Homo sapiens: one gene and its partners. The protein of the gene in region 7 purifies or fractionates together with the protein of the main gene of each other region. This does not show direct contact. Each region holds a gene or a part of one and is shown on either strand. Other genes may lie near its edges.

Region 1 (4,484 bases), on a different chromosome or scaffold from region 7:
TTGTTTCGATTAAGGTGGACAGAAACTAAGGAAATAAAGGTGGGAAGAAGAAAAAGGACTTCTCAGCCTAGACCTGGGCATAAGCCAATTAAGAGTTCTGATTTTATTAAACGTGCTGCATACTCTTTATTTATGTTAAAACAAGTAGAACCCACCAAATTAATTACAAGATAGAACAGAAACAGATTAAAATACATCAGCTGGTTTGTGTTTAGAAGAGGTAATGAGACAACTAAATATTTTTCAATCTAAAATTCATTCTTTAAGGACCCTCTGAAGACCACATAAATACATGTATGGGGTGTGTGTGTGTGTATCTATGTGTGTGTGTATATCTTGATTTCTACTTAATTGGCTCTTCTATAGTCATATTAATATGGGGCAATGAAAAAACAACTTCAATAGGATGAGGGAAGGAATCCTTTGGCAGGCTACAATCTACTCTGAGGTGGAGTAGTGGAGGGATAAAGGGAGAGATTACACTTGTGTCTCTAGGGCAAAGAAAATGCAAAACAGAACTGAGTAAAAGTAGGACATGCAGAACTGTAACACAGAAGGTAAAGAAACCAGCAGAAGTATCACCCAGCCAAATTTCATAGAGCAGTGGGGAAATATCTGACATTTAGAGAGACAACCCCTGTAAACAGGAATCGATCCCACAAGACTTTGCTTTGGGGAAAAAGCTACCTTCCTTCCCTCATTAAAAACACTCCATTGGTGATGGCAGCAGTGCAGGTGGCAGCCAAAAGGAGGTACAGGACACATTTGGAGATCTTTTATCGTATCCCCTGAACTAGCCTAGGAGTACAAAGGAGAGAAAGGAAAATTGTATAAATGAGTTAAAACAGAAGGCAATCTTTCATATTACAGTTACATCTTTGTAAGACTTCTCATAACAAAATACCCGAGATTATTTCTCTACCCTTAGCATTTGGTCATCTTTTATGAAGGCCCTGTTGTACCCAGTTCAGTGTTTTATATCTAACAGATACACAAATAGTTAATAAAAAGTCAATCTCTTCCACCAAATTCAGTTTTATTCCCCCCTCCACCCCAATCATAACTTCTTTTTATTTATTTTTTTTGAGACAGGGTCTTGCTCTGTCACCCAGGCTGGAGTGCAGTGGCGTGATCTCAGCTCACTGCAATCTCTGTCTCCCGGGTTTAAATGATTTTCATACCTCAGCCTACCGAATAGCTGGGATTACAGGCATGCACCACCGCACTTGGCTAATTTTCGTATTTTTTTAGTAGAGACAGGGTTTCACCATTTTGGTCAGGCTGGTCTGGAACTCCTGGCCTCAAGTGATCCACCCTCCTGGGTGTCCTAAAATGCTGGGATTACAGGTGTGAGCCACCGTACCCAGCCTCCCAACCATAACTTCTAAAGTCCCAACTTTAGTGAGATGTGAAACTCTCCTGTTTCAAACTTACTGCAGTTTTGTCTCCAGCAAGTTCAGTTTCTGCCGGTCAACATAGCGAGAAAAGAGGGACACTAGGTTTGTAGGTATAGAGATTGGCTTGGCCAGGGCTGCTTGGGGAATCCGCAGAAGTTCTCGTGTTGCCATGAACATCACCTCCGTCCTGACAGGGAAGACCCATAATAATATCAGGAGAAAAAAATTTAAAAGATTACCTCAAAGAACTTAAAATAAGAGAAGAAACAGTCCACACTGACCACTGATTATTTTGTGTTGATTCTGTAGCAGGGTCTGAACTCTGTAGGTCTTCACCACGGCTCAGGAGGATGAGGAGCAGTGACAGGCCAAACTACGAGAAAAGACAGAGGGAATCAAACTCAACACTGTGTCTAAACCTCCTCCACCACTGTTGAAGGGATCCTGGCATCAGATGGGGAACAGCTCTAAATCAAAATAACCTCACTACTGTGCTTTTCTGTAAAACCAGGTAAAGATCAGACAAGCATGAGTTGAAAGGCTATGTCTCTCTCCAGGCTTTATTCTGCCATAGCAGTGACCAGGCGCAGCCAACAGAAACGGAAAGTCATGGTGTCCAACACGCCTCTCTGTTCCCCATGCTGAGGTTAAAAGATGGTTTTTCCTTGCCATGGATAATGTAGAATTTGACTTTTCTCCTATTTATGAGAACAGAAATAGGCTAAAAAAGAAAGTAAATGAAGACCAATTTTGGTACAGAAATTAAAAATCAGGAAAAAATAAGAAAAAAGCATTACAGTAAGATATTTTGAATTAAGAAACAAGGTGTAAACTGTAGGAAAATATACAAATAAACACAACTGAAATAAACATGGTATAAAGAGAAACTTTCCATTAAAAAGCACATCTCTATCTGGAAATACAAAGTCTTAGACAGAATGTTAATAAAAATCTAAAAAATAAAAAGAGAGAAAGGGTAAACAGATGTATACACCGTATCTATAATTAAAATTCAGCAACATGCTTTAGAGTATGCAATATATAAAAATGGTCAGGTGTGGTGGCTCATGCCTGTAATCCCAGCACTATGGGAGGCCAAGGTGGGTGGATGACCTGAGGTCAGGAGTTTGAGACCAGCCTGATCAAAATGGTGAAACTCCGTCTCTACTAAAAATAGAAAATTAGCCAGGCACGGTGGCACATGCCTGTAATCCCAGCTACTTGGGAGGCTGAGGCAGGAGAATTGTTGGAACCCGGGAGCTGGAGGTTGCAGTGAGCCAAGATCGCACCATTGCGCTCCAGCCTGGGCAACACGAGTGAAACTCCATCTCCAAAAAAAAAAAAAAAAGTAACATATAAAAATGTGTTTTATTTAGTGGACAGTAAAATCAGGAAATGTAGTCTTTGGGGCATAGGATTAAAATATGGGACGGGCGTGGTGGCTCATGCATGTAATCCCAGCACTTTGGGAGGCCAAGGCGGGTGGATCAAGAGGTCAGGAGATCGAGATCATCCTGGCTAACACGGTGAAACCCTGCCTCTACTAAAAAATACAAAAAATTAGCCAGGCGTGGTGGCGGGTGCCTGTAGTCCCAGCTACTCGGGAGGCTGAGGCAGGAGAATGGCTTGAACCCAGGAGGCGGAGCTTGCAGTGAGCTGCGATCGCGCCACTGCACTCCAGCCTGGGTGACAGAGCAAGACTCTATCTCAAAAGAAAAAAAAAAATGAACAGGGGGCTGGGGATGGGCATGGTGGCTCATGCCTGTAATTCCAGCACTTTGGGAGGTGGAGGCAGTACTGCTTGAGTCCAGGAGTTCGAGACCAGCCAGAGCAACATAGTGAGACCCTGTTTCTGCAAAAAATATAAAAATCAATCGGAGGCTGGGTGTGGTGGCTCACACCTGTAATCCCAGCACTTTGGGAGGCTGAGGCAGGTGGATCACGTGAGGTCAGGAGCCCCGGACCAGCCTGGCCAACATGGCAAAACCCTGTCTCTGCTAAAAACACAAACATTAGCCTGGTATGGTGGCGGGCACCTGTAATCCCAGCTACTTGGGGGCTGACGCAGGAGAACTGCTTGAACCTGGGAGGCAGGGGTTGCAGTGAGACAAGATATCGCCATTGCACTGCAGCATGAGTGACAGAGCAAGGCTCTGTCTCAAAAAAAAAAAAGTCAATCAGGCATGGTGGCACATGCTACTCAAGAGGCTGAGGTGGGAGGATCGCTTTGAGTACAGAAAGTTGAGGCTGCAATGAGCTGTGACTGTGCCACTGCACTGAAGCCTGGGTGACAGAGTGAGATCCTGTCTCAAAAAAGAAAATACAAATAGGGACAAGAAGGTTTAGGTTAAATGTATGACTCATACCTATAAATGGATCATAAAAGGAAGGCTGGCAGTACTTTGGGATTCCATTCCAACTTTCTAGACTCACTCACTTTTCCACAAAATTTCCCTTCATGGCCGGTTGCAGTAGCTCACACCTGTAATCCCAACACTTTGGGAGGTCGAGGCAGGCTGATAGCTTGAGCTCAGGAGTTTGAGACCAGCCTGGACAACATGGCGAAACCCCACCTCTACAAAAAATACACAAATTAGTTGTGCGTGGTGGCATGTGCCTGTAGTCCCATCTACTTGGGAGGCTGAGGTGGGAGGATGGCTTGAGCCCAGGAGGCAGAGGTTGCAGTGAGCCGAGATCTTGCCACTGCACTCTGGCCTGGGTGACAGAGAAGACCCTGATTTAAAAAAAAAAAATCCCTTTTCATGTTATTCTCAGAAAAAAAATACTACTGCCTTTACTAAAATTAAAACTAAGAGACCAAATAACAGAAAGGCACATTCCGGATCACTCCAGAACCCCAGAGGCACTGTCACCTCTTCTTCCTCTGATACACTGACCTTTAGAGTCATGCTTTGGTAGGTTTTCTGGTGCAAAGGAGCAAGAGGCCTTGAGACCACTTTTTCATCTCTACTGTACATAGAATGGCCCTTAATGAGTAACTACTATGTACCAGGCATTATATCGAACCACTTACAACTGTTATCTCATTTAAGTACCAGGACAACTCTATGAAGTCTACATCATCAC
Region 2 (3,591 bases), on a different chromosome or scaffold from region 7:
CCTCCTCCTCACCCTCACACCCCCTCCCTCCAGCCGCACACTCAGAGCCTGGAGACGCTGAACCTGGGCCACAACCCCATCGGGAACGAGGGTGTGCGGCACCTCAAGAACGGGCTCATCAGCAACCGCAGCGTGCTGCGCCTCGGGCTGGCCTCCACCAAGCTCACGTGCGAGGGTAGGGTACGGGGCCGGGCCAGGGTGCGGGCTGGTGGGCTCAGCCGGGCGGCCAGCCGGGTGTGGGGCCCGTGGCCAGCCCCTGCGGTGCCCCCCCAGGCGCGGTGGCGGTGGCGGAGTTCATCGCTGAGAGCCCCCGCCTCCTGAGACTGGACCTTCGGGAGAACGAGATCAAGACAGGCGGGCTCATGGCACTGTCGTTGGCCCTCAAGGTGAACCACTCACTGCTGCGCCTGGACCTCGACCGTGAACCCAAGAAAGAGGCGGTGAGCAGGGGACGGTCCTGCAGCCCTGGGGCGGGCGGAAGGCCGGGTGGTGGGGCCGGCCTGAGAGCCCTAGCCAGGCGCTCCCGCCACAGGTGAAGAGCTTCATCGAGACGCAGAAGGCGCTGCTGGCCGAGATCCAGAACGGCTGCAAGCGCAACTTGGTGCTGGCGCGGGAGAGGGAGGAGAAGGAGCAGCCGCCACAGCTGTCGGCCTCCATGCCTGAGACCACCGCCACCGAGCCCCAGCCCGACGACGAGCCCGCCGCTGGGGTGCAGAACGGGGCCCCCAGCCCCGCACCCAGCCCGGACTCAGACTCAGACTCGGACTCGGATGGGGAGGAAGAGGAGGAAGAGGAAGGGGAGAGGGACGAGACCCCCTGTCCTGCCCTGGTGCCCCCCACGGACTCCCTGGGCCCTGGGGACAGGAGTCCCCCAGGCAGCCCCTCCACACCCACCGAGCAGCGGATTTCCGTGTCCAGCCCGGGCCGGGGCCACAAGGTGTTTGTGGTGACCCGGGTGGAGAGCCCGCCCGAGAGGGCAGAGCCCCCTGCGTCCCCCACCCCTCCCTCTCCCCCACCCCCTCCCTCCCCACCCGCCTCACCTTCCCTACCACCAGCCGGGGCCATTGACACCCGGGACACAGGGTCCTCTGAGCCTCAGCCACCACCGGAGCCGCCTCGGTCAGGGCCACCACTGCCCAACGGCCTGAAGCCCGAGTTCGCCCTGGCACTGCCCCCTGAGCCGCCCCCGGGGCCTGAGGTCAAGGGGGGCAGCTGCGGCCTGGAGCACGGTGAGAGGGGCCCTAGGGCAGGTGTTGAGGGGCCCTGGGTGCTGTATGTGACCCCAGGCAAGCCCCTGCCTGTTGTGGACCTCAGTTTCCCCCTCTTTAAAATGGTTCTCGCAGGGGCCAGCAAAGTGGGGCTTAGTTCTCATCTCCACCCTGCTTCCCTTGGGTCCTGGGAGCTCTTCCTGGGGTGGGGGGGCATGTAAGGTGTGCTGCCTTGAGCCTGACCATCTCAGCGGTCTCTGGGCACTCTGCAGGCCCTGAGGGTCTGGCTGGGGCCGGGCTGGGGACAGGTTGTATTTGCCCCACCCGCCTGACGGGGGTGCTGGCCCGTCCTCCCACACAGAACTGAGCTGCTCCAAGAACGAGAAGGAGCTCGAGGAGCTGCTTCTGGAAGCCAGTCAGGAATCCGGGCAGGAGACACTGTGACACTTTAGGTGAGGCCAGGCCCGGGGCCCACAGCACTCGGGAGGAGCTGAGAGAGCCTCTGGCTCTGACAGTCTCTCCCCCAATCTCTCCTCCCCAAGTTCCCTTTTTCCGGTCGGTCTGCGATGAGCTGAGGCCAGAGCCATGAGAATCTGCTCACCTTCCCCCCAGCCTTCCTGAGGCCCAGGATGCCAGGGGTGGGGGCCATTCTGGGGCCCCCCTCCCCCCACAGCAACACTACAAGGGGTGCAGGAGCTACAGGGAGTGGCCCTCCGCGCGTGACTCAAGCACTTCTATTTATGAGCCCAGCACTGGAAGACTCTGGGGGTGAATGGGAGGAGGGGGAGCAGGAGGAGGAGGAGGTCTCCAAGGACATCAGGCGCCTGTTCTGGAGGGGCCAGGCTTGCCCTGCGGAGGGCAGGCGTCCTGGGTGGTGGTGGGATGGTCCCCTGTGGCCCCGGGCACAGGGCCGGGCAGGCAGCCTGGTGCCGGAGAGGCGGTGCGTGCTGGTGGTGGTTGAGATGCACAGAACAGCCCCAGACAGCGCAGGCCGGGCAGGGTGGGGGGATGGGAGCAGAGGATCAGAGCTTTCTTTTTCTCAAGTGCAATAAATCTATCAGGGAGCTGGGGCGGGAGCAGCCGGCACTCCGGGACCCTGCTGTCCAGGCCACTGGAGGCTGCGCCCTGAGAGGCACTACAGCCCTTTGGGGGCGAGTGGCATGGGTGTGGGTGAGGGTGGGCAGAGGGCTGGGGCTACTCCTGTCGGTGCAACTCTGTTCACACCTTTTCTAATAAACTGGGGCTGGGTTCACTTTGCCCAACGTCTGCTTCGTGCGGATCCTGGAGGTGGTTGCTGGGGGTGGGCTGGGTGGAGGCCATCACAGCTCCTGGTTACAGAGCATCTGCCAGGGCACTGGTCAGGCATTACTGCGTCTTCCCCCACAGTCCCGTCTATTCTGCATCCATGCTCTGGTGTCTCGTACGGTCACCTCCCAGCCAGGCGAGTTTACACCCATCCTTTCTGCAGGGAGAGACAGGCCCCAGATACCTCCTGGCTTCAGGTCTAGGGTCTCAGGATGCTGGATATGGAGTGGCTCTGCCCAGTCGCCCATCGCTCAACAGGAACAGATCCCAGCCTGTCCCTGGCAGCCCCAGGTGTTGTGCAGGTGGGAGTATGCCCCGGGCCCAGCCAGCACTGCAGGAGCCTGGTGGGCGGCTTGTTCCCCTTTGCCAGCAGGGGCCTGGGGGGCCATGGGGGTGCTGTTGCGGATTTCTGAGAGGTCTGTTTTTCCCTTTAGGAAAGGGGGGAGCAGGCCGGGCATGGTGGCCCACACCTGTAATCCCAGCACTTTGGGAGGCTGAGGTGGGAGGATTGCTTGAACCCAGGAATTTGACACCAGCCTGGGCAACATGGTGAAACCCCATCTCCATAGAAAATACAAAAATTAGCTGGGTGTGGTGGCGTGTGCCTGTAGTCCCAGCTACTGAGGAGGCTGAGTTGGGAGGATCGCTTGAACCCAGGAGGTTGAGGCTGCAGTGAGGTGTGATTGCACCACTGCACTTCAGCCTGGGCAACAGAGTGAGATCCTGTCTCAAAAAAAAAAAAAATTACTAAACGAGCATTTCTGGGCCACCCATCCCCTTGTTTCCCGTGTGGGAGGCTGACATGGATGGAGGCGTTGTGGTGACATCACGAGAACCACAGTCGCAGGCTGGAGCCCTGGTGTCATTCAGCTCCTGCACACACCAGGGAGTCCCCTGCCCCCAGCCACCCTGGCCTCTGGGAGGAACACCTTAGGAAGCCACTGCTGGTTTGCTGTTTGGTCCCTTGCAGCTGTAAGTGTCCTAACTGCTCCCCAGGTCAGCCACGGCTAGGACTCTTATTTGGGCGAGGGACTTAGGGAAGCTACACAGAACAGCCGCCAGCAGCCCGCAGCACTCT
Region 3 (4,484 bases), on a different chromosome or scaffold from region 7:
ACCTAAAAAATGAGTCAAATATAATAAGGCATAAACAAGACCAGCCAACATTATTTTAGAATCCTACCTGTATTTCAGCAGGAAGAGCTAACTGAAATCCATCAATGTTTTACTTATCAAATTGCCTTTTTTTTTTTTTCTTTCTGAGATGGAGTCTCACTCTGTCTCCCAGGCCAGAGAGCAGTGGCGTCATCTCAGCTTACTGCAACCTCTGCCTCCCGTGTTTAAGCAATTCTCCTGCCTTAGCCTCCTAAGGAGCTGGGACTACAGGCGTGCACCACCACGCCCGGCTAATTTTTTTTTAGTAGAGACGGGGTTTCACTCGCCAGGCTGGTCTCAAACTCCTGACCTCAGGTGATCTGGCCGCCTTGGCCTCCCAAAGTGCTGGAATTACAGGCATGAGCCGCCATGCCTGGCCACAAATTGCCATTTCAATTTCTGCCTAAGACAAGAGCTTTTCACTGCTAGGCGTCTTGCTCTCTGGGGCTAACATTGTAAAAACTGGATTTATAGCACCACCCTGAGCAGACCAAAGGGAAAAGGAAGGAGTTCAAACTTGTTCAGTCACACTTCTATCCCGGCTGTGGTTATGTATATCAAATTAGGTCCTCTTGACTAGAGACTCCATCAGAGAGTATAACAAAGCAAGCACAAGAGGGAAAAAGTTACCTTGCCATGCCTGGCAAATGCTTCCTGCAGGAGCTGCTGCAGCTCCTTCCGGGATAATCTGTAGTCTATGTTGCTGACTTGGACATCAGCACCATTTGCAAATGGGTCTGGGCAGTCGGCTTCGCTGCTCGAATTTGCAATGTTGAAAGCAAGCGGGGATGCTCTGTTTAAAAGGTTTGGAGACATACTCCTGCTTAAAACACACATATTGACATTATTTTAAAAAACTGTTCTGTATATTTAGATTTTATCATTTAGGCTTTGTTTGAAACTATATACAGAAGCAGATTTTCCACAACACAACCAAACCAAACATTTGGTTTTCAAATGTGTTTTTAATCTTTTTTTTTTTTTTTTTTTTTTTGAGACAGAGTCTCGCTCTGTCACCCAGGCTGGAGTGCAATGGCACGATCTCGGCTTACTGCAACCTCCACCTCCTGGATTCAAGCAATTCTCCTGTCTCAGCCTCCCCAGTAGCTGGGACTACAGGCATGCACCACTACACCCAGCTAATTTTTTTTATTTTTGGTAGAGATGGGGTTTTACCATGTTGGCCAGGCTGGTCTTAAACTCCTGACCTCAAGTGATCCACCTGCCTCAGCCTCCCAAAGGGCTGGGATTACAGGCGTGAGCCACTGTGCCCAGCTGTGTTTTTAATCTTAAATACACATTGATTTCAGACATTGTCAAAAGTACTATCTACTGACCCCTAATTACCGCCAACCAATTAATATATATTCTTCCTTTGGGTTAAAGCTAAAGGCAGGAATTAGAGGCAGTCCTGATGAATTAACCTTCTGCTTTGTGCATTATCCTTAGGAAATCAGCCTGTGATACCAATTTAAGGCGTCTAACCTCCTCTGTGTCTCTGAAAGAGTTAAACGTTCTTGCCTACATGTTACAGTTCTTTCTGCACATAAGGAAAACTTTTATGTGGCTTTTTAGATGTAATTTTATAGATCCATAGTCACTTTCTCTTTTTTTTTTTTTTTTTTTGAGACGGAGTCTCGCTCTGTCACCCAGGCTGGAGTGCAGTCATGCGATCTGAGCTCACTGCAACCTCCACCTCCCAGGTTCATGCCATTCTCCTGCCTCAGCCTCCCAAGTAACTGGGACTGCAGGCACTCACTACCACGCCCGGCTAATTTTTTGTATTTTTAGTAGAGATGGGGTTTCACCGTGTTAGCCGGTTAGCCAGGATGGTCTTGATCTCCTAACCTCATGATCCTCCCGCCTCGGCCTCCCAAAGTGCTGGGATTACAGGCGTGAGCCACCACGCCCGGCTGATCCATAGTCACTTTCTACAGTGATCTGCCACCAACTCAGCAGAACAAACACAATGCTAAAAGGAGCTCATGGGAATGCAACACGGCCTTACGGCTTCTCTGTCTCCCAAGCATCAAGAATTCCTTGGTGTGAGAGACAGTGATAAATAATTACCATGGTTTACAGAAAACTTTACTTCCAAATAGCTTCCTATACAGAACCATATGAATCAGAACCACCAATGCACGGCTCGTTTGGGCTTTTTCCTCAACACAGCGAACATAGGGACATCTTTACATGCCCCCCTGCACTGGCCAGGGACTCTCCAACAGGCTTCTCTTTCTGACCTCTGCTTACCACAATTTCCAGATGGAGGAAGAAGAAATGGTGAAAGCATTGCCCCTAAATGTTAACGATGATTACCTGAGGAGAGGGGGACTGGCAGAAGAGTGATGGGAGACTTACTTTGTGCATTTCAGTACTATCTGAATTCTTTTCAACAAACATACTATTTCATAATCCTTCCTATTACATGTAACCACCCCCATGGGTCAAGAAGCTGGACTCACCTAGAAGACCAAGACTGAGATGCGAGCAGAGGACTGACTTGCCTGGATGCAACTAACTTGCTAAAAGCAGACGGGTAACTCACTTGGAATACAGTCTCCTCTTTATCTTTTTTCTCTACAGGAGAACTGGTAACACTTCGGGCACTGAGGTTCTCCTTTCTAACAGAAGGGGAAAATTGAAGGCAAAAGGTCATATGTCTTCCTTCACATTCAAGAAGCAGCTATGAGAAAGAGTAGTTTCACATACTTCTGACTGGTTTTGTAAACGGGTTCTGCCACCCCCGAGTTTTTCGGCGTCGACACTGCAGCACTTGAGTTACCGTGAGTGGGTACGACCAGCCTCAGGTGACCTTGCTGGTGCTCACTGTTTCTATGACCAGTTTTTGACTCCATGCGGCACAGCTCCTTCAAAGACACAAGCACAGTGGGGTTTAAATTTTAAGTACCCAAGATGTGTTAGATCCTTTACAGAAAACGATTGACTTTGAGTATCATCAAACACTGAAATCAAAAAGGGACACGCCAAAAGCAAGCGGGCACGTAAAACACAGAAACAAACCAAACCTACCATAAACTTCAGAAAGCAAGAGGTATCAAAATTACCTGTAAACTTTTAACATTTGTATTTTTTGTAGCAGATCCAGAATTTGCCTGTGACCCTTTTCCAGGCGTGGCTTTGGCACTGGAAGATTGTTCACTTGCATCTTTGATGAGGCACAATTTTGGATTCTTAAGTTTTTTGGGAGACTTCACTTTATCAGCAATTGCATTTGAACTCTTTGTTTCACAGAGTTCTCTATTTTTTGGAGTAAATGACACAATGATCCTATTACCAAAGACATCTTCGTTTTCCATTCGCTTCTGAGCGCGCTCTGCACTATCTTGGTTTATGAAGCGGAGAATTGCACTGCAGCCTGTGATACTCAGCACTTTCCCACCACAATTATCGGACAGGCGTCTGAGCCTGTTGCTGACGCTCTTGCCATCCTTATTTGCTGGTAGGTTATAAACATAGAGCAGAGTGTGGCACTGCTAATACAGAGGAAAGAAGTGTTACGTCAGGTTAATTCAAGGGCACACATTCAATTTCAAAATAAGAACAATGGGTGACCTCCAAACTTCAGTTAACAACTTTGAAGAGAAGATGACAGTGATTTAGATGGGAGAGGGTAAATTATTTAGTGTTGACAAAGTAACTGAATATTGTTTTAAAGAATATGCTTTAGCTGGGCATGGTGGTGCATGCCTACAGTCCCAGCTACTCAGGTGGGAGGATTACCTGAGCCCAGGAAGATTGAGGCTGGAGTGACTGTGCCACTGCACTCCACTCTGAGTGACAGAGTGAGACACTGTCTCAAAAAATAAAAATAAAAAAGAATATGCTAGGCACAGAGGTCTGTATACTATATGATTCCATTTCTATAAAGCATCCAGAAAATACAAATCTACAGAGACAGAAAGATTAGTAGTGCCTGGGAGTGGGGAAGGGGATTAATTATAAATTAGCATAATAGATTTACTGAGGTGACAAAAATATTCTAAAATTGTACAACTCAATTTACTAAAAATTATTGTACACTTAAAAGAGCTGAATTTTGTAATATGTAAATCATATCTCAACGAAGTTGTTTTTTAAAAGTCTATTTATTCTGCAGGTCTGCTGAATAATAACTTATAGAGCCAGAAGGTGAGCAGGGTCAGTCCTGGTTGGTTTTTGCATAGGAGAATGCCTGGGAATACTAGGAGCTATAGGCTTAAGTAAACAAAAATTTTTTTAAAACCCAACAATTTAGAGCCTGTTCAGCTTCAACAGCAGATTGCCAGTAGTTAGGCTGGAAGTTTTATTTGGCAGTGGGTAGTCATAATTCTTCCAGATAAGTTGAAATTTATGTATTAAGAAGTAGAACTTGGCCTGGCACAGTGGCTCACGCCTGTCATCGCAACACTCTGGGAGGCCAAGGCAGGTGGATCACCTGAGGT
Region 4 (4,276 bases), on a different chromosome or scaffold from region 7:
TCTTTATTCACATCTTATTTCTTTAGTAATTCACAGAATTGGAATTTTTGGATTAAAGTTCTTTTTTTTTTTGAGACGGGGTCTCACTCTGTCGCCCAGGCTGGAGTGCAGTGGTGTGATCTTGGATCACTGCAACCTCCGCCTCCCGAGTTCAAGCAATTCTCTGCCTCAGCCCCCCAAGTAGTTGGGATTACAGGCACCCGCCACCACGCCCAGCTAATTTTTTGTATTTTTAGTAGAGATGGGTTTCACCATCTTGGCCAGGCTGGTCTTGAACTCCTGACCTCGTGATCCACCCGTCTCGGCCTCCCAAAGTTCTGGAATTACAGGCGTGAGCCACCGCGCCTGGCCTGGATGAAAGTTTTTTTAAAGGGAGTCTTGCTCTGTAGCCCTGGCTGGTGTGCAGTGGTGTGATCATAGCTCACTGCAGCCTCAAACTCCTGGGCTCAAGTGATCCTCCAGCCTCAGCCTCCTCAGTAGCTTGGACGACAGCTGCACACAACCATGCCCAGCTAATAGAGACGGGGGACTCACTATGTTGCCCAGGCTAGTCTCGAACTCCTGGGCTCAAGTGATCCTCTTGCCTGGGCCTCCCAAAATTGGGATTACAGGCGTGAGCCACCGCTCCTGGCCCGAAAGAGTGTTTTTAAGGCTTTAAAAAAATATTGCCAACATGGTGAAAACCCGTTTCTACAAAAATACAAAAAGGATCCGGGCATGACGGCGAGTGCCTGTAATCCCAGCTACTCAGGAGACTGAGGCAGGAGAATCGCTTGAACGTGGGAGGCAGAGGTGGTAGTTAGCGGAGATCGCGCCACTACACTCCAGGCTGGGCAACTGAGGGAGACACCGTCTTAAAAAAAAAAAAGTTCCCAAGTCTAAAAAAAAAAAAATCATCAATCTGCTCTCAAAAACTGTCGCAACAATTTACAATCTCATCAGCACTGAGTATCCATTTCCTTGCACCCTTCTCAGTAGTATTACCATTAAACAAACAAAATTTATATGCGTCAGTTTGTTGGGCTCAAAGGAGCCTCTCGACAAGTTTCCTATTCCCCACGCTGCCTCTCCTCTGGACACAGGAAGGGGTCCTTTTCCTTATTTATTTTGTTATTTCATTTTCGTCAACACGGCTCGGCTTGGGGACAGGGGTCGGGGGCAGGCCGGTTACCGCAGAGGTGGAGGCCGCGCGGCACCTGGCCTGGAGAGCTCACCACACAGCGACACAGACTTCTTCTCAGCTGGGTCCACCTGCTTGCCTCGGGGCGACAGAGGGCGCCACGGCGTCCGCGACGGACCCCGCCCCCAGGCAGTGCGCCGCGCTCCCGTGACGTATTTCCGCGTCATCTGCCGCCGAGGCTTGCCCCCATTGGTTGTCTGCGAGGCAATAGGGGCGGAGCCGAGTGGGAGTGTGGAAAGCGCCGCATCCCGGGTGGGAGGCGAGGCTTCCCCTTCCCCGCCCCTCCCCCGGCCTCCAGTCCCTCCCAGGGCCGCTTCGCAGAGCGGCTAGGAGCACGGCGGCGGCGGCACTTTCCCCGGCAGGAGCTGGAGCTGGGCTCTGGTGCGCGCGCGGCTGTGCCGCCCGAGCCGGAGGGACTGGTTGGTTGAGAGAGAGAGAGGAAGGGAATCCCGGGCTGCCGAACCGCACGTTCAGCCCGCTCCGCTCCTGCAGGGCAGCCTTTCGGCTCTCTGCGCGCGAAGCCGAGTCCCGGGCGGGTGGGGCGGGGGTCCACTGAGACCGCTACCGGCCCCTCGGCGCTGACGGGACCGCGCGGGGCGCACCCGCTGAAGGCAGCCCCGGGGCCCGCGGCCCGGACTTGGTCCTGCGCAGCGGGCGCGGGGCAGCGCAGCGGGAGGAAGCGAGAGGTGCTGCCCTCCCCCCGGAGTTGGAAGCGCGTTACCCGGGTCCAAAATGCCCAAGAAGAAGCCGACGCCCATCCAGCTGAACCCGGCCCCCGACGGCTCTGCAGTTAACGGGACCAGCTCTGCGGAGTAAGTATGGGGCGGGCGGTGAACCTCGGGGCCCGGCTGGGGAGGCCCGAGCCGGGGAGCAGGAGCGCGCGCCAGGCTCCGATCTGGTTTGTCACGTACGTCTGGGGCTGGCAGGGGGCGAGAAACTCCCGGCCGCCGAGGTATCGGTGACTAAGCACTGATTGTGTTCCTGACTCAGACCAGTTAGCGGATCCCGCGGGTCTCCATTCCTCTCTGTACCCCTTTTCCCGACCGTTTTAGTGGTTCCTGGCCACTGTACAGTCTTCTCCCAAGAAAATAAAAGCTAGCACGTCTCCCCTGCCTCCTCCCAGTTCTGTTCTAAATGTGATCATCTGGGAGTCTGGCCTGTAACGGGGAGAGGAGGCTAATGTTTTGGAAAGAATTAAGATCGCATCTGTGCTTTTGAGACCAGCTCAGGGTATTAAGTGTGGAGCATCATCCTCACCTTCATGCCTGACACCTGTGGGGCCTGAGTGCCTTGTTGCAGGCCAACTGCCTGGCCAGCGGGGGCGTGCTGGAAGTCCGTGTGGACTTCGTGGCTTTTCCTTGCTGACTTTGGAGGTTCCTGGTACTTGGCCTTCCTGGGAAATTGCTCAAGAAAGCGGCTTTCTTCTTCATCCTACTCTTCATTCATTCATTGAACAAACCATTTTCTCACTAATGATTTCCTAGCTTTCCGTACTTCACCAGGAGCCCCTAAACTCCTGACCTGAGGCATGAACACCATGACCTAGAAACCACATGCTAGGTGCTCCATCTCTGCAGCTTCCAGCGTTGCTTACAAACGAGCACTTTATTTCATTAAATAATCATGAGTCTGTTTCCTGGGGGTTTCTGAGCTCCCACAACTCTCTTGGGTTCTAGGTAAGGGACAAGACTATGTGAGGGAAAGCTGCTTAGCTAGCTAGAGAAATAGCCAGAAAAGATTAGGTTATTATTATTTTTTTGCCTTTTTTTGGTTGTTGTTTGCCCAACCTTCAATAAGGATTGGGTTCTTAATCTTTTACCTGCACACTGCAGACTTTAGGAAGCTAATTGATGAAATCAGAATAGGCTTGGACCTTATGCTCTTTGGTGATTTCTGTAACCTCCCTTCCTTTCTCTAGATTTTTAGAAAATTTTATTTTTTAAACTTTTATACAGATGGGGTCTTGCTATATTGCTTAGGCTGGTCTTGAACTCCTGGACTCTAGCGATCCTCCCAAAGTGCTGGGATTACAGGCATGAGCCACTATGCCCAGCCAACTTTCTCTAGATTTTAATAACCCGGGGACCTGTTGGCTTGATGACTTGTTCCATCCCTGTAATGATCACAAGGTCGATGGTGGACCTGTGGTGTGTGTTCAGCTGTGTTTTTCAGACCTGCTCCCAACAGACTCTCTTCTTTAGTCCCCTCTCAATCCTGTGGGGTCTATTTTGCATAATACTGACTTGTATAGGTAGTTGGATTGCATTATTGCATTGCAAACATTTGTTCTTTTTTTTTTTTTTTTTTTGAGTCGGAGTTTCACTCTTGTTGCCCAGGCTGGAGTGCAATGGTGCGATCTTGGCTAACTGCAGCCTCTGCCTCCCGGGTTCAAGCGACTCTCCTGCCTCAGCCTCCCGAGTAGCTGGGATTACAGGCATGCGCCACCATGCCCGGCTAATTTTGTATTTTTAGTAGAGATGGGGTTTCTCCAAGTTGTTCAGGCTGGTGGCAAACTCCCGTCCTCAGGTGATCCACCTGCCTCGGCCTCCGAAAATGCTGGGATTACAGGCATGAGCCACCGTGCCCAGCCCATTTGTTCAGTTTTAGTATACAGTGTTTCACCCTCTTAAAATAGACTGAAAGTCATGACTGTTGTTAGGACAAGTTTTGACCACAGTGGATTCTGGCTGAGTGTTATGGCCTCATTATCCTTTCCTATTTGATTTGGAAGTGGATACTGAGTAGAAGTACCTGTTATCATTCTGTTGTAATCGTGATACCACAACTGTATTCTCTCAAGGAGGAGGAATTTCATTAAAACAGTAAAAGCAGGATGAGAAGAAACTACCCCAGATTTGGTGGCAGAAAAATTTGGATGGTACTGGGAGAGTCTAAACAGTGGTTAAAAGGTAAGGGCTCTGGAGTCAGGCTAAGTTTGAAGCCTAGCTCTGTTGTGGTTTTTTTTTTTTTTTTTTTTTTTTGACAGTCTCGCTCTGTTGCCCAGGCCAGAGTGCAGTGGTGCGATCTCGGCTCACCACAACCTCCACCTCCCGGCTTCAAGCGATTCTCCTGCCTCAGCCTCCTAACTAGCTGAGA
Region 5 (4,484 bases), on a different chromosome or scaffold from region 7:
GTGAAGGGGAGGCCTACACAGAACTCTGAAGAACACTAACATCATAAGGGACAGACAGAGGAAGAGGACCTGGAAAGGGAATAGAGAAGGAACAGAGAAATAGAAGGAACGCTGGAAAGGCTAAGAGAAGGGAGTATGTCAAAAAGAAAGGAATTGCCAGCAATGTCAGCAGCAATATTAGCCTGCCTTCATCCTCAAATCTGGGTTAGATGACCCTTGTATGTCCTTGCAGAGTCAGAGCAGGACTGGTTGTGTCCCCAAAGTGATGTTCATTGACCTTGAGGAGAGCAATTTCATGAAGTGGTGAAGCAAAAGGCAGATAGCAGTTGATTGAGAAGAACTTGGGAAAGGAAGGAGTGAAGACAGCAAATACAGACAACTCTCACAGGAATTTGGCAATCCAGGGGAGGAGGGAAAGGTAGTGGTAGCTACAGGAGAAGTTGGGGATTAAGAGAAAGCTTTTAAAACAGTGAAACCTTTTGTGTGTTCAAATCCCAGTGGGAAGATGCCTATAGAGAGAGGTTTAAAATGGCCCGGCGGGTAGAATGTTGACCCTGGGAAAGAGGAAACTCATTCCTCACTCTCTGTGTGCCAGGCACTGTTGGAGGCATGGGGATACAGCCGTAAACAAAACATGCAAAACTCCTTGCCCTTGTGGAGCTCACATTGTCGTTGCAGAAAAGGATAATAAGCAAAACAATAAGTAAAATTTATAGTTTATTAGATGGCAGAAAATAAAGAGGAAGGGGATGCAGTTTTAAAATTTTAGTCAGGAAAATCTGCACTAAGCAGGTGACATTTGGGTTAAGCCTTGAAAAAGGAGAAGGAGCAATTATATGGTTATATGGTTATTTACAAGTAAAAGGTTTGAAGTAGCTCCTGTGAAGGCTAGGAGAGAGAATTAGGGAAACAAGGATTGTTGTACAGCGGGTCACGTGAGGTTGAGGACATTCAATTTCAGGTCATACCAGTCTGCTTAGTTGTGTGATTTTCTTCCCACTTTCCAGCAGCAGCCAAAGGCTGAGATTACACAAGGTAGGCAGTTGTATTGACCCAGGGTTGGGATTTTGCCATGTGGTTGTTATAGAAGTGTAGTGAGACACAGTTAAGAAGTTATGGAGCCGGGCGCAGTGGCAAACGCCTGTAATCCCAGCACTTTGGGAGGCTGAGGCAGGCGGATCACGAGGTCAGGAGTTCGAGACCAGCCTGGCCAATATGGTGAAACCCCATCTCTCCTAAAAATACAAAAATTAGCTGGGTGTGGTGGCAGGCACCTGTAATCCCAGCTACTTGGGAGGCAGAGGGAGGAGAACTGCTTGAATCCAGGAGGTGGAGGTTGCAGTGAGCCAAGATCGCGCCGCTGCACTCCAGCCTGGGTGACAGAGCAAGACTCTCTCTGGGGGGGGGGAAAAAAAAAGAAGTTAGGGCAAGCAAGTGGCTGAAGTGGTAGACCATGGAATATATGCTGAATAGGAGAAGGAAGTAAAGACAGCACCTGACAGGGAGAAAGAATACGCACATCAGTTTTCTGTTTGCAGACCTTTGTTGGACTGACCCATAGAGTCAGAAGGGACCTAGTTCTGCCTCTTCAGTCTCCCTTTATTTTACTAAATATAAAAGTAGGCTAAAGAGAGGTAAAGTGCATTTTTAAACTCAGAGTTCAATATTTAGTAGATCCTTAGAAACTGCTTTTAAATTTTGTATTCTGCAGTTCCAATAATGAAACTAATAGAAAATAGATACTAGTAGCAGTAGAAAGCTTTGTCTGAAAATAGTCATCAAAAGGGGTGGGATCCAGACTTCTATCACATCCAAGGTGAGAATTTTTCTTGGTTAGGAACAAAGTAAACAATATGAAGAGACTGGGGATATTTTCATGGTAGAAATAAGACATGATCAGTACTTTCAACTAATTTACACCCTAAATTAGGGAAACGGGGAATATATACAATAGCCCATTGTCAGTGGAAAAACACAAACTGTGCTTTTTTTGTTTTCCCATTCAACAACAGCAATCAACACAGAACACTTCTGTGACCAAATGTATGGAGGTTTTCCCCCACACACCAAGCAAACAATCAGTTTTGCAGCAGACACCAGCTGGTTGTCCTCCATTTCAATTCTTATACTATCTACCTGATGATAGCATCAGATCCCGCAGGTTGAAGACTCAGTCCCCAAGACTGGCCTGCCCTTCCCACTAGTTGCAAGTCCAGGCCTCTGGAACTTCTGACCGACCAGCTTGAAGTTGGGGATCCCACAAGCTTCTCTTTGGGTTCTAAAGCTTGCTAGAGTGGCTTACAGAACTCAGGGAAACACTTAGGTTTACTGGTTTATTATAGAGGATATACCAAAGGATGCTGCTGAAGAGATGAATAGCCCAAAGTATGGGGAAAAGGGGGCAGAGCTTCCATGTCCTCCTCAGGCGTGTCCTCTCCCAGGAGCCTCCATGAGTTCAGCTATTCAGAAGCTCTCTAAACTCTGTTCTCTGGGGCCTTTTATGGAGTCTTCATTGGATAGGCCTGACTGACAATTCTGTATTAATGTGACTGGACAAAAAGGGTATGATCTAATACTAGTAGACTGAGTGGGGAAACCCAGCAAGGCCTGTCCAGATTCTTCTTGGCCTCTCTGTGAAGCTTTCCTTCCTCCAGGGTATGAGGCAGAATCCCTTCAGAAATGAGGGTTTTATGACCCACAATCAGAAAGGTCAGGGAAGATTATAGTCCTGACTTGGGCAGGTGAGGGGAGGGCAAAAGAAGGGCAGAGAGATTGTGAGAGAGATTCTTTTTCTGAGGCCTGTCTCTGAGGCCTAAAATGCCTCGACATGGTAACAAAAGACTGTAACAAGGGCATTGGGAGTTATAAGCCAGGAATCGTGGATGGAAACCCATATATATATACACATATATATATATATATATATATACACATATATATATATATATATATACACATATATATATATATATATATACACATATATATATATACACACATATATATATATATACATACATATATATATACACATATATATATATATATATCACACATATATATATATATATATCACACACACATAACCGTATAATACAAAACGTAAGATACAGATGCGTGTATAATAGTGCTCCCAAAGGTTGTGTATCTTTTTCAAATTGAATCTAAGATGACTTGATGTACAAGAGCTCACTCATTAAAGGGTAAAGATTAATCTTTTTAAAAAGAATAACTACATAACATAATTCGATGGTTTACATCATACATTCATATACTCATTCAAATATATTCATTGCAAACATTTAGAAACTGTTGGGTTTATATAAAGTGTAATTCAGGTACAAAAGAGAAAAATTTCCATTTGGAAAAATTGGAGTTACCAGCATCATGAGGGGTTAGTCTGGCAAACCTTTCCAGCAAAAGCTGTAGAAGATTCTTCACTCCATAAACCTCCATATGGTGTTGTCTAATTGTATACTGCAGATTTAAAACTAAGCAAAGGCTGAACCATGCATTCTTAATGGGGCAGATGACACTCCCAAAGGGGTGAAAATTGGTTCTTGGTGGTGGTGGGGCAATATCTTACTTTTTCATGTATGAGGCACAGATATACATAAACAGAGAGTGTAGCTGTGGTATTAAAATCTCATGGAGATGGGATTAGAAGAAAAAAAAGTCTTAAAAGGCTCATTAGATAAAAAATAATGAAAAAGTAATTGAGTAACACTGGACTAGAATTTACCTTGCTTGGAACTATACTGAGGAAATAACTCAGTGCCAATTTAACTTGAACGTTGTCCCCTGTTGGAAGATGGTTAGCATCCCCGATCTCGGCGCACCAAATTTTAGCAGTATGCGTGATCAAAAGGGCGTCTATGTATTTCCACCTCTGGTTGAGAAACACTGCTTCAGAGCCACACTCCATCTGCTGGGTCCACGCTGGCAGCTTTTTCCCAACAAAAAATAGATGTCTTGCCATTCTTGACATCCGTGAAGCTAGTGATAAGGTATTCAAAAGGGGGAGGGGGAGAAAGATAAAGAAAACCTGTCTTTGTAGTCTTAAAGCTGGCCAAGTTTGCTAGATGGATGATAACAGAAGCAGCAAAAACATGGCTTTTTGATTGGCAAGATCTAAATTCCCTCTGGGATTTTTAGCTTTTTTAGTTCTGCATTACAGAAAGCACAGAAATATTTAGAATGGAGGTTGAGTGCCAGTCTGCCCTATTTGGGTTTTCAGATTTAAAGAAATCTGAAACAGTTATTCGTTGTATTTAAATTGTTTATTAGAGTCAGTGGTGATAATGAAGTCAGGATAGGCTAGCTCTTCCTCTAATCCATGCATTTCCAAAAGGATAAAAGTTGGTTCTTCCCTGGGGCAGAGCAGAGGTGGCAGGAGAAAAACAATTTTTATTCTTTTTATATGTAAAGCATAGGTATACCATACAGAACATAAACATATATACATTGTATCTGTGCCATTAAAA
Region 6 (4,119 bases), on a different chromosome or scaffold from region 7:
AGGGTACAGGGAGTAGCAATGTATATGTGGCACCTCCCTTTTTCCACACGAGTCTAGTGCCTAGGTACCATATGCAGGAACTGGGATCTTTATTGTCAAGTATTCATTTTAGGAAAATGCCAGAAGTCAAGCCCTTGTGTTGATAACCCACTAAACGCCTTGCACATTCTTTTTTATTCTTTTTTTTTTCTTTGAGACGGAGTCTTGCTCTGTGCCCCAGGCTGGAGTGCAGTGGCACAATCTTGGCTCACTGCAACCTCTGCCTTCCAGGTTCAAGCAGTTCTCCTCCTGCTTGAACCTCCCAAGTAGCTGAGATTACAGGCACCTGCCACCATGCCCTGCTAATTTTTTTAGTAAAGACGGGGTTTCACCATGTTGGCCAGGTTGGTTTTTGAACTCCTGACCTCAAGTTATCCACCCGTCTCAGCCTCCCAAAGTACTGGGATTACAGGCGTGAGCCACCATGCCCGGCCCACCTTGCACATCCTTAACGTTCAAGGCTTCCTGCTTCAATCCCTGTTCCAACTGTCTTGAGGGCCCATTGCTGGCAAGTGGCCAGTCAGATCATGCTGGAGGGAGGAAAGTAGGACTAGTTCAGTTGTTGAGGCTACAGGAGCCACTTTGGGCTGTGGTTTTACAGGCTCACCTTTCTGTTCTATCCTAGAACTTGCTTATTTCAGTTGTTTTTATGTTGTTGCCCCTGGACTTCCTCTGTTCCAGGTAAAAATTCATGCAGGCCCCAAATTTGCCTCCTATCTGACCTTCAGCCCCTCCGAAGTGAAGTCACTCCGAACTGAGTATGGGGACCTGGAATTATGCATTGAAGTAGTGGACAACGTTCAGGATGCCATTGACCACATCCACAAGTATGGCAGCTCCCACACGGATGTCATCGTCACAGAGGACGGTCAGTGTCCAGATGCTTCCCGCATACAGTGTCTGCCTTTGCTGCTTTCTGATCCTGCTCCTCTTAGCCCCCCTTGGGCTGCAGAAAAACATCATTTGAGTAGGCTTATGGTAATGTTTAGTAGTGGTTGCATTTGGTACTTTGATGAGTGCTTTCACATCACTTTATTATATTGTCACAGCTGGAGGAGGAGGGGCAGGGATGATTAGCTCTGCTTCGAAGATGACTAACCCTGTCAGAGGCACTATCATTTAATGCGTGCAGCAAATCTTACAAGGTAGTTAAAATAAACCCATTTTACAGCTGAGGAAACCAAGGCAGAACCAACTCTGCACATTCATTCATTCATTCATTTATTCCACAAATATGTATGCAGGGACACTCCTGGGTGTCAGATACTGGAGCCTCAATGGTGGAGGATGCCAGTAGGGCCCCAATGAGGAATTTACAGTCAGCTAATTAGGGCACCAGAGCAGTACCACCCGTATTAACAGCCAACATTTACCAAGCACTCACTGTGTGCTAGGCACTAGCATGAGTACTCCCCAGGTGTTTCATCCTCTCTACAACCCTATCAGCTAGGTCATGTTGTAAGTCCCTTTTGACCCAGACACAGAGAGTTTTGTACACCTGCAGAAGGTCACAAAGCTAGCAGGTGTACAGCTGGAGTTCAGGCCTAGGAAGTCTGGCTCTGGAGCCCATAAGTAGGAAGTTTAGGCAGGTCACCTGCATGGGAGATCTGGATTCCAACTCAGTCTTTCCACAACACCGTGATTGATGAAGCTAACTTGTCTTCTTCCTGTTGAGATTTTTCATAAGCCTGAGTATTTAATACGTGAGAACACATGGAGAGGCCCCAGTGGGGACCCAGACCCTGCCCTGATCTGTCACCAGTCAATGGCTGGAAACAGGGATGTTCTCTGGGTATCATCCTAACTTGGTTTCTCCTTCTTCACCCTGCAGAAAACACAGCGGAGTTCTTCCTGCAGCACGTAGACAGTGCCTGTGTGTTCTGGAATGCCAGCACTCGCTTTTCTGATGGTTACCGCTTTGGACTGGGTAAGAAAGACTCTGGTTGGGAAGAAAGAAGTTCCTTGTGAAGCACTGTGTGGTCTAGGGGTATGTTGAGGTGGGAAAGACACCTCCCCTTGACTGTCACATGCTTGGTCAAGATAAGAGAGAAACAGGCTGGGTGCCGTGGCTCACGCCTGTAATCCCAGCACTTTGGGAGGCCGAGGTGGGTGGATCACCTGAGGTCAGGAGTTCGAGACCAGCGTGGCCAACATGGTGAAACCCTGTCTCTACTAAAAATGCAAAAAATTAGCCAGGTGTGGTGGTGCATGCCTGTAATCCCAGCTACTCAGGAGGCTGAGGCAGGAGAATTGCTTGAACCCGGGAGGCAGAGGTTGCGGTGAGCCCGAGATTACGCTACAGCACTCCAGCCTGGAGGACAGAGTGAGACACCATCTCAAAAAAAAAAAAAAAATAGAGACAGACTTCTGGCAAGGTAGGATTATCAGGGAGAATAATTAATGAAACCTCCCATGAGTTGGTGGAAGGCCTATCTTCTAAGCATTTCACATGCTAAGAAGGCAGGTACTTGTATTCATTTTTCAAAGAGGGAGAATGAGATTCAGAGAAGTATAGTAACTTGCCCAAAGTCCCACAGCTGGCATTCAGACCCAAACTTGAGCAAGTCCAAAGCCTGGGTTCTCCCGCTACAGCGTGGGCAACCACAGCCTGCCTTTTTACACAGGCTGCGCCAGAGGTACATGCTGTGTCCCTTGAGAGCACTCCTTTTACAGACTTATTTCGTCAAAATGGCACAGCCAGGTTGCCTCGGAGATAGGAAACCCCACAATGGTAGGACAAAAGAAGGTGCCGTGGGCCTAAGTACCAGCATCAAAACAAACAGGCCAGCCAGAAGTACAAGGTTACCTTCTACAGCAGACCTTGAAATAAAAAGCTTCAGAAGGGCACTTCTGTCCCTTTCCATTAGGTATAAAATTTCCAGCCCTCTGTCGTGTTGGGGTTATTTGGACAGTCTCTCGTTTTCAGGGGTACCAGTATATAAAACTCCAGAACGGGCGCAGTGGCTCACGCCTATAATTCCAGCACTTTGGGAGGCCAAGGCGGGCAGATCACCTGAGGCCGGGAGTTGGAGATCAGCGTGACCAACATAGAGAAACCCCATCTCTACTAAAAATACAAAATTAGCTGAGCATGGTGGCACTTGCCTGTAATCCCAGCTACTCGGGAGGCTGAGGCAGGAGAATCGCTTGAACCTGGGAGGCAGAGGTTGCAGTGAGCCGAGACCGCACCATTGCGCTCTAGCCTGGGCAACAAGAGCTAAACTCCATCTCAAAAAACAAAACAGACAAAAAACCTCCAATAATACATTTATGACACGTTTTCTGAATATTTGAGAATTATTTCAACCACTCAAAACATTTTAGGCCACGGGCAGTGGCTCACACCTGTAATCCCGGCACTTTGAGAGGCTGAAGCAGGAGGATCTCATGAGTCGGGGAGTTCGAGACCAGCCTGGGCAACGCAGCGAGACCTCCTCTCTACAGAGATGAAAAAATTATCCAGGTGTGGTGGCGTGAGCCTGTAGTCCCAGTTACTCAGGAGGCTGAGGCAAGAGGATCCCTTGAGCCCAGGAGTTCGAGGCTGCAGTGAGCTAAGATGATGCCATTGTACTCCAGCCTGGGAGAGAGTGAGGCCCTATCTGTATAACAAAACAAAACAGAAAGACACACATTTTAATCCTTCTGAACTTTTTGAGTAGATGATCTGCCTGGAGAAATAATTCTCACCAAATTGTTAAAAGGTTATGAAAGGGAATTTAACTCAGTTATTCTTAATCATGATACTCTTTATTTTTAGTTCCCCATTTGTATTATGTTGGGATTTTGATGTAATTATCACATCACTTGCATTGATCTTTATACTCTCCATGTACTTGAAAAAGAAATAGCAACATATTTTTAAGGGCTGGGGCACCCAGCATTCAAATGAAAATCCAGGATGAAGGAAGAACAAAAGATCATTTCATTGTCCTTCCAACACCAGCTCAGAGTGAAAGCTGGTTGAGTTAAATTCCTTGTGAAATGCATTAATGACAGTAACAGATTTTACTGAGCATTTACTACATTCCCAGCACTGTGCTAAATGTGTCGCAAGCATGCTCTCACTTCATTCTACAAGAT
Region 7 (4,484 bases):
TGTGCTTACCACCCAGCTTTCAGTTCCTAATATTTTGCTGTAATTGTTTCAGATCTTTCTTTACAAGGGAGAAGGGGGTGTTCTTAAAAACTGAAAGCCCACTTAGTGATTTTTTTTTTTTTTTGGAGTCAAGGTCTCACTCTGTTACCCAGGCTGGAGTGCAGTAGTGTGATCTCAGTTCACTGCAGCCTCTACCTCCCAGACTCAAGCAGTCCTCCCACCTCAGCCTTCCAAATAGCTGGGACTACAGGCGTGTACCACTACGCCCAGCTAATTTTTGTATTTTTTGTAGAGACGGGGTTTTGCCAAGTTGCCCAGGCTAAGTTGGTGGTTTTTAAAAGGGAGAATAAGGGAAACCTTTTATTTGCTTATAGTGTTACTAACTTTTAAGGATTCACCAAGACCTCTATTTTCAAGAACTGACTTTGTCCTTGCTAGCCCAGTGTCAATCCAAACTTTCCACAGAGGATTTGTTCAACTATGCAGCCTTCCTGTGTCTTGGTGGAACTGTCAGTTTTCATATTTACTTTAGCAATTAGTTTGACTGATTTTGAAATACTTCAAGGGAAAAAGGGAGAAACCTTAGTGGAGTTTGTAATGCATCTCTGCCAACTCTAGGAAGGAATTCTGTATTTTTATCCTTCTGAAGGGTAAATATTGGCACTGTTAATGAGACGGTGAAATGGTAAGTCATTTATTTCTGAAATGAGGTAACTGAAGTTCTGTGTTATATATTGCAAGAATAATGTAATCGGCTGGGCGCGGTGGCTCAGGCCTGTAATCCCAGCACTTGGGGAGGCCTAGGGCAGATCACGAGGTCAGGAGATTGAGACCATCCTGGCTAACACGGTGAAACCCCATCTCTACTAAAAATACAAAACATTAGCCGGGTGTGGTGGTGGGCGCTGTAGTCCCAGCTACTCCGGAGGCTGAGGCAGGAGGATGGTGTGAACCCAGGAGGTGGAGTTTGCAGTGAGCCGAGATCACACCACTGCACTCCAGCCTGGGCGACAGTGCGAGACTCCATCTCAAAAAAAAAAAAAAAAAAGAAGAATGTCATCATGTGACACTCTTAGTGTATCCTTGGAAGATGAACACCAAAAGAAATCTTGGGTCAGATTTTGTTTCAAGAGGCCTTTCTAAAACCTTGTTCTTCTCCTCTAGTGTGGTAGAAGAGGAGACACGGCGATCCCAGCAAGCTGCTCGGGACAAACAGAGTCCCAGCCAGGCCAATGGCTGCAGCGACCACAGGCCCATCGACATCCTGGAGATGCTGAGCAGAGCCAAGGATGAGTATGAGAGGGTGAGGCTCTCTGGGTACTTGGGTGCTGACCAGGGAAGACCAAAACGGGAGGAGGAGGTCTGCAGGAGACTATTTTACTAGGGAAGCTGGCCTCCAGGGACGGCAGAAATATAAGTTCAAAAAGAGAGCGTGTTAGCACACTCCTGTAATCAGTCCCAGCTACTTGGCAGGCTGAGGAAGGAAGATCACTTGACTCCAGGAGTTGGAGGCTGCAGTGGGCTATGATTGTGCCACTCCACTCTAGTCTGGGCAACAGTGAGACCCTGTGTCTCTCTTTTTTTTTTTTTAAAACAGATGTGTCTTACAATTTTAAACCTAAAACATAAGGAAAGAACTTGCTTACCCCAGATTACTTGTTTTTGGCAGGAAAATTTACAATGCTTTTTTCTATTCCTATAAGATTACTATGGGAGAAGATGGTCTTGGAGTGCAGAAGTTAGCTCGCAGCAGCTAGTTCTGGTAAAGCTTCGTGCCTCTTCTTCACCACTGCAGTTTCTGTTAGGATCCTCAGTGGTCCTAGGAATTTGTTTAGGCTTTGAAAAGTATTCTGATAGTTTGTACCACATAATACTAAAAAATACACTCATGGTCTGTAATTGGTGGTAGATGCACAACCTTCATTAAGCTTCATTTGGAATTTTACCCAAATGAGAGGCTTTTCTGAAATTCACTGTTTTCTTTCTCTTCTGTTGTGCATTTTAGTTTATAAATTAGCTGATAAAATTTTCTCCCAAAAGTTGAATAAAATGGCAATTGTGGTACTTTCGTTAATTTATTCAATACCTGCTTATGAACCATCTACTATGTGCAAGCAGTGGGCATTTCATGGTTATGACTCTCCTGGAATTTTACTTGGCACCTCAAAGCCCCCACACTTCACTGGAGTGAGACAAGCTCTCTACTGCTGAACTTTGTTTTAGCAGAATTATACTGTCACCTTACTCTTCATTAAATATTGAATTAAGTGCTTTCCTTTCATGCCTATTTCACCTCACCAGAACTTCAAGGAACAAAATGTGAAAAAGCACTGTCCAAAAGACCCTGTTTCCCATACAGTTCTGCTATAATACCAGCTACTAAGTTATTAATCAGTGATCCTGAAAAAAGCTTCAAATTGGCAAAACGAGTTAAGGTACTGTTGTTAGCATGACTCTTCCTCCTCCCATCCTCTTGGGACTTTACAGAGCTCAAAACTGAGAGGTCCTGCAATAAGTAAAACAATAACACCAATTCCCAGATTGACTTGACTGCAGGACCATTTTTTGCATACTGCCCTTTAACAACTCAAGAATTTGGAGTTCAGGAAAAAGTTTGAAAAAAGTGTTCTGAAAGATAGTTTCTTCTGACTAAAAATAGGCATGTTCACCATAAACTACATAGACCTTCTACATTCTGATAACAAAGGAAGTCCCACCTCCAGGGTGGAGAAATGTACATGAGAGCCCATGAGAAGTTTCAAGTTTGTACCAAATTCTTCAATGTCTCACAGAGAATTAGGAGGAATGAATGGATCTATGGAAGTTAAATTTGGAGGAGCAGTCACCTCTCTAATAAATTAATCGATTCTTAGGAAACCAAATGAGAACTAACTTCAAGAATGGCTTTCTGATTTAGAAGTTACCTTACATTCCCCTCTTCTACCCTTGATGACAAGCGGATTTTCTACGTACATACTTTGTTCTGTTTGTAGAGCCCTTTCAGTGTTCTCATAGGTACCTAGTAAGTCCAGGGCTCTGTCACTCATCCTGAGTAATAACTGTATCAAGGTACCACACGGGACAGAAACTGTAGGTGCTGCGCACTAAAGCAGATACTCCAGTAAGTGGCCTGGCTTACTCAGGCTGAGAGGTTAAGTAGCCACAACGAGAAAGTAGGAAATAAGACATTAGCTTTGAACACAAAACTTTAAAGGAACTCTAGGGTCAGGTGGGCAATCTAAACATCTGACATTATTTTGAATTATATCAATATTACAAAAGGAATATAGATAGCATGATAGTTTCTGTTTTAAATAAACTTCTTTCACACTATGGAATAAAATATCGTCTATGGGTAGATTAAAATGAAACCCTTTGGGATTTGGTTAAATCTTTGATATTTACTTTATCATGTGTTCTTTCTGATTTTGAAAACTGTCTGCAATAGGTGGAGCTTCTTTGAATTAGAGTTTTGTTCTCTTATCTGCATTTGTCTATCATCTCATCAGATGGAGCTGGTATAAGCAGTGACCCATGAATTCATGGGTCTTGGTGTTTGGATGGGCTCCCTTCAGCTGCCACATTTTTTCAGACGGCCCCTTTGTTTATCTTTAGGTGAAGACTCAGAAGATTGGCAATCAAGGGCAGGGGTGCAAGCTAGGCCTCAGTGTTGGGATTTAATCCTGATTCTGAGTCTCCGCTATCTGCTGAGTATGATATAATGAACGAAATTTCAGACTTTTGAATGAGCACTTGTAATAATGAGACTCTTTTCTTTTTTCAGACAGGGTCTCTCTGTTGCCCAGGCTGGAGTGCAGGGGCACAATCTTGGCCCACTGCAGCCTCTACCTCCCAGGCTCAAGACATTCTCCCATCTTAGCCTCCCAATTAGCCACGACTATAGGCCATGCATCACCATGCTTGGATAATTTTGTTTATTTTTTGTAGAGATAGAGTCTCACTATGTTGCCCTGGCTGATCTTGACAAGCTCCTGGGCTCAAGCTGTCCTCCCGCCTTGGCCTCCCAAAGTGCTGGAATTATAGGTGTGAGACACTGTGGCCAGCCTAGAGACTGTTTGAAAATTAAAAATCTGTATAATAAGCATTTTCTTCAAAAGAAAGATATTGCACTTCTATAATATCTTTTAATTAACTTTCCTTTTTTTTTTTTTTTGAGATGGAGTCTCGCTCTGTTGCCAGGCTACAGTGCAGTGGCGCGATCTCGACTCACTGCAACCTCCACCTCCCAGATTCAAGTGATCCTCCTGCCTCAGCCTCCTGAGTAGCTGGGACTACAGGCATGCACCACTATGACCGGCTAATTTTTTGTATTTTTAGTAGAGACAGGGTTTCACCATGTTGGCCAGGATAGTCTCAATCTCTTGACCTCGTGATTGGCCCGCCTCAGCCTCCCAAAGTCCTGGGATTACAGGCGTGAGCCACCGTACCTAGCCTCAACTTTCTTATTTTTTATGTAAAGAAAG

The links.
Region 1: the proteins of DCP1A (region 7) and PATL1 purify together in Homo sapiens (co-immunoprecipitation; 2 studies listed by BioGRID and IntAct, with this or other methods). This does not show direct contact.
Region 2: the proteins of DCP1A (region 7) and PPP1R37 purify together in Homo sapiens (affinity purification with mass spectrometry; one large-scale study listed by BioGRID and IntAct). This does not show direct contact.
Region 3: the proteins of DCP1A (region 7) and MARF1 purify together in Homo sapiens (affinity purification with mass spectrometry; one large-scale study listed by BioGRID and IntAct). This does not show direct contact.
Region 4: the proteins of DCP1A (region 7) and MAP2K1 purify together in Homo sapiens (affinity purification with mass spectrometry; one large-scale study listed by BioGRID and IntAct). This does not show direct contact.
Region 5: the proteins of DCP1A (region 7) and HINT3 purify together in Homo sapiens (co-immunoprecipitation; one large-scale study listed by IntAct). This does not show direct contact.
Region 6: the proteins of DCP1A (region 7) and ALDH18A1 purify together in Homo sapiens (affinity purification with mass spectrometry; one large-scale study listed by BioGRID and IntAct). This does not show direct contact.

Annotation. Positions count from the first base shown.
Region 1 is NC_000011.10:59,637,614-59,642,097, forward strand, and holds part of PATL1 (protein PAT1 homolog 1), read right to left. Parts: intron 1,771-4,484; coding exon 1,679-1,770; intron 1,585-1,678; coding exon 1,435-1,584; intron 799-1,434; coding exon 777-798; 3' UTR 1-776. UniProt on the Homo sapiens protein: RNA-binding protein involved in deadenylation-dependent decapping of mRNAs, leading to the degradation of mRNAs. Acts as a scaffold protein that connects deadenylation and decapping machinery.
Region 2 is NC_000019.10:45,144,821-45,148,411, forward strand, and holds the end of PPP1R37 (protein phosphatase 1 regulatory subunit 37), read left to right. Parts: intron 1-33; coding exon 34-175; intron 176-273; coding exon 274-440; intron 441-532; coding exon 533-1,229; intron 1,230-1,569; coding exon 1,570-1,652; 3' UTR 1,653-1,660; intron 1,661-1,750; 3' UTR 1,751-2,465; downstream 2,466-3,591. UniProt on the Homo sapiens protein: Inhibits phosphatase activity of protein phosphatase 1 (PP1) complexes.
Region 3 is NC_000016.10:15,622,265-15,626,748, forward strand, and holds part of MARF1 (meiosis regulator and mRNA stability factor 1), read right to left. Parts: intron 3,537-4,484; coding exon 3,108-3,536; intron 2,910-3,107; coding exon 2,752-2,909; intron 2,664-2,751; coding exon 2,505-2,663; intron 863-2,504; coding exon of another isoform or gene 860-862; coding exon 670-859; intron 1-669.
Region 4 is NC_000015.10:66,385,436-66,389,711, forward strand, and holds the start of MAP2K1 (dual specificity mitogen-activated protein kinase kinase 1), read left to right. Parts: upstream 1-1,476; 5' UTR 1,477-1,912; coding exon 1,913-1,992; intron 1,993-4,276. UniProt on the Homo sapiens protein: Dual specificity protein kinase which acts as an essential component of the MAP kinase signal transduction pathway.
Region 5 is NC_000006.12:125,959,258-125,963,741, forward strand, and holds part of HINT3 (adenosine 5'-monophosphoramidase HINT3), read left to right. Parts: intron 1-4,484. UniProt on the Homo sapiens protein: Exhibits adenosine 5'-monophosphoramidase activity, hydrolyzing purine nucleotide phosphoramidates with a single phosphate group such as adenosine 5'monophosphoramidate (AMP-NH2) to yield AMP and NH2.
Region 6 is NC_000010.11:95,608,044-95,612,162, reverse strand, and holds part of ALDH18A1 (delta-1-pyrroline-5-carboxylate synthase), read left to right. Parts: intron 1-720; coding exon 721-907; intron 908-1,870; coding exon 1,871-1,966; intron 1,967-4,119. UniProt on the Homo sapiens protein: Bifunctional enzyme that converts glutamate to glutamate 5-semialdehyde, an intermediate in the biosynthesis of proline, ornithine and arginine.
Region 7 is NC_000003.12:53,309,060-53,313,543, reverse strand, and holds part of DCP1A (mRNA-decapping enzyme 1A), read left to right. Parts: intron 1-1,164; coding exon 1,165-1,303; intron 1,304-4,484. UniProt on the Homo sapiens protein: Necessary for the degradation of mRNAs, both in normal mRNA turnover and in nonsense-mediated mRNA decay. Removes the 7-methyl guanine cap structure from mRNA molecules, yielding a 5'-phosphorylated mRNA fragment and 7m-GDP.